Linked DNA regions of Homo sapiens: region 1 is reported to be linked to region 2. Evidence: microRNA targets listed by miRTarBase, many of them from high-throughput screens and not tested one by one. Region 2 holds a microRNA gene; the other region holds the end of a gene's coding sequence.

Region 1 (3,000 bases), not on the chromosome of region 2:
AGAGTAGGTAGGTGACTTTACAAATAACAAAGGTTATTGACTTTTTTAAAGACCTGATAGTTGCATATAAATAAAACGACAACGTGTTAAATGCTAAAGATCTCAATTTCCTTTCTTTTGCAGAGTCCAGCCTCTGATGAAGCAGGAGAGAAAGAAGCCAAGTCTGATTAATAACCATATACCATGTCTTATCAGTGGTCCCTGTCTCCCTTCTTGTACAATCCAGAGGAATATTTTTATCAACTATTTTGTAAATGCAAGTTTTTTAGTAGCTCTAGAAACATTTTTAAGAAGGAGGGAATCCCACCTCATCCCATTTTTTAAGTGTAAATGCTTTTTTTTAAGAGGTGAAATCATTTGCTGGTTGTTTATTTTTTGGTACAACCAGAAAATAGTGTGGGATATTGAATTATGGGAGGCTCTGACTGTCTCGGGTGTCAGCTTAACATTCCACAGATGGGGGGTTAGTTTTTATATCCTATAATACAAAGCATATTAAATGGCAATATGGAGTCAGTCCTGCATTTAATGTCTTGAACATTTTAAATTACTTCTATTACCATGTTGTTTTTTAGTAGAATTGTTTCCTAAAGAAAACCACTCTTTGATCATGGCTCTCTCTGCCAGAATTGTGTGCACTCTGTAACATCTTTGTGGTAGTCCTGTTTTCCTAATAACTTTGTTACTGTGCTGTGAAAGATTACAGATTTGAACATGTAGTGTACGTGCTGTTGAGTTGTGAACTGGTGGGCCGTATGTAACAGCTGACCAACGTGAAGATACTGGTACTTGATAGCCTCTTAAGGAAAATTTGCTTCCAAATTTTAAGCTGGAAAGTCACTGGAATAACTTTAAAAAAGAATTACAATACATGGCTTTTTAGAATTTCGTTACGTATGTTAAGATTTGTGTACAAATTGAAATGTCTGTACTGATCCTCAACCAATAAAATCTCAGTTATGAAAATATTTTGAAGCACATGGATTAAATTCTGGTTTAAATTTTATTTACAGAATTTCCACATTTGAGCCTGGCCAACATGGTGAAACCCTGTCCCTACTAAAAATGCAAAAAAAAATTAGCCAGGTGTGGTGGCAGGTGCCTGTAATCCCAGCTACTCGGGAGGCTGAGCCAGGAGAATCGCTTGAACCTGGGAGGTGGAGGTTGCAGCGCACCCAGATCGCACTACTGCACTCCAGCCTGGGCAACAGAGTGAGACCCTGTCTCAAAAAAAAAAATTCCATATTTGATCTTCCAAAGTTGTTTTTTTTAAGTGAAATGTTTGAATTTTTGTTTAATACAGTCATGGGTCACCACTGACTGGATACAGTCTAAGAAACACATTGTTAGGCAGTTTTCTTGCGTGAACATCATAGAGAGTGCTTACACAAACCTCAGTGGCATAGCCTATTACCTATGTAAGCTGTATGGTTTAACCTATTGCTCCTAGGCAATAGACCTGTACAGCATGTTATTATGTAAATACTATAGGGAGTTGTAATAGAATGGTAAGTACTTGTGTATCTAAAGAGAAGGTACAGTATATAATATGGGACCATTATGTGGTTCATTGTTGGTTGATACCTGAGACATAACTGCTTGAGTATCTATGTCCTTTGAAGTTGCTTGACTATATTGGTTTAAGGGAAAAACAATCCAATATCCTTTGAATCAAAGCAAATACGTAATTCTTAACTCTTCGTATGAGGTTAAAAAAAGTACAGATAGGCCAGGTGTGGTGGCTCACACCTGTAATGCCAGCACTTAGGGAGGCCGAGGTGGGTAGGTCACCTGAGGTCAGGTGTTTGAGACCAAGATGGTGAAACCGCATCTCTACTAAAAATAAAACAGTTAGCTGGGTTTGGTGGTGGGCACCTGTAATCCCAGCTACTCAGGAGGCTGAGGCAGAAGAATTGCTTGAACCCAGGTGGTAGAGGTTGCTGTAAGCTGAGTTCACGCCATTGCATTCCAGCCTGGGTGACAAGTGAAACTTGTCCCAAAAAAAGAAGCTACAACTAAATCTAGTATGGTATGTATTTTCCAGATTTGCTTTCATATACATTCTGTTGTCATTCTGCCCTCTTAAGTATAGTCTTCAGAGGTGGTGTGGGGCAACTCTTGACTTGGCAACAGTGAAAACGGCCGGAGAACAGACCTTGTTGAGGTTATCACTAAATAGGGATCCTTGGAACAGAATTTAAACCTCTGTACACTTGGTGTGTTGTTTTGCCTGTGGGCTGATCAGTAGGCAAGAATCCTTTAAAAACAAGCCCTATGGGATCATAGATCTCTGCACGGACTGCCAGAGCAGAGTTTATAGGGAATAGTGAGGATACAGTAAAAGCAAATGCAGAGGATAGTGATGTGTCATGAACTGACGGCAAAGAAGCTTTGATAACCCTTGGGGGATGGGGAAGGACTAGGAGCCACCTGAGCGCTGTTGGTCATTACACGATGGAGGCCTGAAACGGTGATGAACAGATTTGCCTTTAACTCTGAAGTATAGGTAGAATAGATGAGTTTTTGATAAGCCTTTTAACCATAGAACCATCTGCCAGTGTTTAGTTAGTTGTCATCCCCAACCTTCCCACCCCGGACGGTGGTAATAGATGTTTTCAAATCACAGATTTTCTTAATCGTTGAATACTCGTTGTAATGATATATTTAAAGAAATCACTAGTTTTTCTTACAAATTAAAACAGGTAAAGGGTTTTGGCTTATAGAATACCAAAAACATTGTAGAAAAGCATAACAGAAGTACTTTAAGATCCTGCCTTGAACTACTCCGTTAGGCTTTTCTACAGTTTTTTTGGAGCGAGCCTTGCCTTGTTAAATCTGACCTATTACTTGGGTGTTTGCTAGCCCTAAGGCTGCCCATTTTCCTTTTTTTTTTTTCTTTTAAATCCTACCCACAGGAAGGAACACCTTTTGTTGTTGTTTCTGAGACGGAGTCTCACTCTGTCGCCCAGGCTGGAGTGCAGTGGTGCGATCTCAGCTAAC
Region 2 (3,000 bases):
ATGTGAGGGTAAAACCATGTTGCCAGGCAGAAAAGATCTCATTTATGCAGAAAGGCAGCACCCGGCTGGGACAGTCAAACATTTCTACCATGCTAAAACATGCGCCAAAGACCCAGAGCCAAGAGCCCAGGAAAAAGCCAAGAGATGCCACTCCTCCCACTGCCTGCTTTCAGATGAAGTGGACACTTCAAATGGGCGAATTTTATGGTATGTGAAATATATCTCAATAAAACTACAGAAGAAAAATAAATGTCACACGTACAACATAAAGTAAAATCATACATGTTTTCTAGGCCAGTGGCATAGAGGTATACAGGCTGAAAAGAGAGAAACTCTGAAAGTTATTTATTTATTGAAACAGGGTCTTGCTTTGTTGCCCAGGCTGGAGTGCAGTGGCATGATATCAGCTCACTGCAACCTCTGCTTCCCGGCTTCAAGTGATTTTCCTGCTTCAGCCTCCAAAGAAGCTGGGATTACAGGTGCACCCCATACCCAGCTAATTTTTTTTGTATTTTTGGTAGAGACAGTGTTTCACCATGCTGTCCAGGCTGGTCTCGAACTCCTGACCTCAAGTGATCCTCCCGGCTTGGTCTCCCAAAGTGCTGAAATTACAGGCGTGAGCCACCATGCCCGGCCTGAAAGTCTTTTATTAAGCAAAAAAAGCCACTACATGAGTAGTTTCTCAAAAAGACCAAAAGCCGTGTGACCAAGTGACATGGCTTCCTTTCTGTCTGGCTAGGTCTTGTCTCTGACTTAGGTCTCATTTCCCCGAAATAGCACTGGAAGCAAAAAATAGTGTGATGGTTAAAGAGCCGGCTTTAAGTAACTCGCCCAAAGTCACACAAGTTATAGATCTGGATTTGAACCCAGGCAGTCTGGCTCCCTGGGTTCCAATCCAGATCTATAACCTGTGTGACTTTAGGCAAGTTACTTAACCTCTCTGTGCTCTGTTATAAAATGGGATACACGATTGGGTTGTTGCGAAGAATAAATAACATAATCTTTGAAACGTGCTTCAAAAAGCATCTCTTGCTTGTTGGAATTTATTTGAAGTTGACTATGTTTTTTTAAAAAAGCCTCCCATTAGGACATGCTTTTTTTAGAAGGCCCCAATCATTTCATCCTCCCATTTGTCAATGATCATTTCTATGTTGCAAGCCATCTTTAATCAGACACCAGGTAGTAGTTGATCTAATGCTGACAAGCCAAGTCCTACTCCCCTTCCCTGACATTCCTTTTCTGCCATTGTGAGAACTATAGAACATGGCTCAGAGGTTGTTTTCAAAGGCTGAGGTCATTGCTATCATTCCTTCATACTCTCACAGATTAACTCCAAACTGCAGAAGCATCTTGGTTTCCCATCATCCTGCAGACTGGGCAAACAGATAGGAGCTTAGGAAGGCCTAATCAGAGAACAGATGCTCATTTCATGCTAAGAATGTGCTAGCACTGTACGTGAATAGTTTCATTTCATTTTCACACAAACCCCATCTTGCAGACTATTATTATCCTCTTTTTCACATGAGGAAATTAATGACCAGAAAAGTTAATATGTCAAGGTCACACAGCCACTGAAAAATGGAGCCAGAATTCCAACCCAGCTGTCTTCAGACCCTATTAACTGCCATGTTATATTACCTGCCCCTCCCTAGAATGTAAGAGTTTACAGCTAAGGCCCTCTTTAACAGTAGCCCAAAGCAACAGAGGTCAGAAATTCTGTCTTATCTATCTATGTCCTCGGTGCCTGGGACACCGCCTGCCATGTGATAGGAACACAGAATGTCCAACTGCTTAACTGTGCTCGGAACATGTCATGTAGAGTTAAGTGAATCCTCCAGTTGCAGAGTCTATTTTCTACTTGTAAGACTATTTATTTATTTACTTATTATTTATTTATTTATCAAGATGGAGTCTCAGCTCTGTCGCCCAGGCTGGAGTGCAGTGGCACGATCTCGGCTCACTGCCACCTCCACTTCCTGGGTTCAACGGATTCTCCTGCCTCAGCCTCTTGAGTAGCTGGGATTACAGGTGCCCACCACCATGCCTAGCTAATTTTTGTATTTTTAGTGGAGACGGGGTTTCACCATGTTGGCCAGGCTGGTCTTGAACTCCTGACCTCAAGTGATCTGCCCACTTCAGCCTCCCAAAGTGCAGAGATTACAGGCGTGAGCCACCGCGCCAAGCCAACTTTCTACTTGTAAGACAATTTAGAGGGGTTTAGAGTCACAGAGATCTTAGTTAGAATTTGGTAGCTATGTGATCTTGACAAATGTATTTAACTCATCTGAGTCTTGTGTCCCTAACTTGGAAAATGTGGTAAATATATACTCATAGCATTATTATCTGGATGGAATGAAACAATGATAAACATATAATAGGTGCTCAATGAATATTAGCTGTTACTATTGCCTCCCTATCCTTTCTTCCAAATAGGTCTTTGTGATAGGTCAACCATGAGTTAGTTCCCAACTCAAAATAAGTGAAGCAGAAATTGGAACTCAGAGTAGAGTAGTAAAACTAGCATTAAATTGGAAATTGGGAAACTTGTCTCCTGGCTTTTGTTGCCCTTTCTCTACCCAGCAACTATGTAATCTTGGTCAAATCACCTTACTTGTCTGGGCTTCCAATTTCATATCTTAAGTTACAAAATTGATCTCTGAAGCCTCTAGGATTCTCTGAATCCATATGTCTGGGACTAAGAGATTATGTCGAGGAATTATTACCCTTGGTTTGATTGTTTTTTAAACAAATTAACTTGGGGTGGTTGGAAAACACATTGATTATTTACTCATCTTAGAGTTACACGTTGTTCATTTATTTGAAACTGAAACGTATTTCCTCCAAACACCGTAGAAACTTAAAGGCCGCAAAAGACTCACACCCACCACCTAGCGGCGAAAAAAGGAAGTTTCAGGTGATACAAGATGTCCTGCCATCACACCTGAAGGATGGTTGTCCACAGCCATTTTTTAAAATCTCGTATTAGTCCTCTTCCTTCAA

The links. The annotated mature microRNA hsa-miR-607 reads GUUCAAAUCCAGAUCUAUAAC and lies in region 2 at 846-866, opposite strand. An mRNA with a match to its seed (bases 2 to 7 or 8) in the 3' UTR can be bound and repressed. Matches are read on the target gene's strand: a 7mer-m8 pairs with bases 2 to 8, a 7mer-A1 pairs with bases 2 to 7 and ends in A, and an 8mer does both.
Region 1: the mRNA of HMGN1 is a reported target of hsa-miR-607. Seed matches in the 3' UTR shown: 7mer-m8 at 707-713.

The regions. Positions count from the first base shown.
Region 1 is chr21:39,340,283-39,343,282 of GRCh38, reverse strand. It overlaps HMGN1 (high mobility group nucleosome binding domain 1), which reads left to right. Exons shown (of 6, transcript NM_004965.7): 6 at 124-968. The coding sequence ends at 171. Among named protein-coding and RNA genes, the nearest start is that of HMGN1, 7.3 kb to the left of the region's middle.
Region 2 is chr10:96,827,839-96,830,838 of GRCh38, forward strand. MIR607 (microRNA 607) reads right to left here and starts at 926; the gene lies at 831-926. It overlaps LOC102723665 (a long non-coding RNA gene), which reads right to left. Exons shown (of 1, transcript NR_135921.1): 1 at 2,794-3,000. RefSeq lists a cis regulatory region at 2,808-3,000.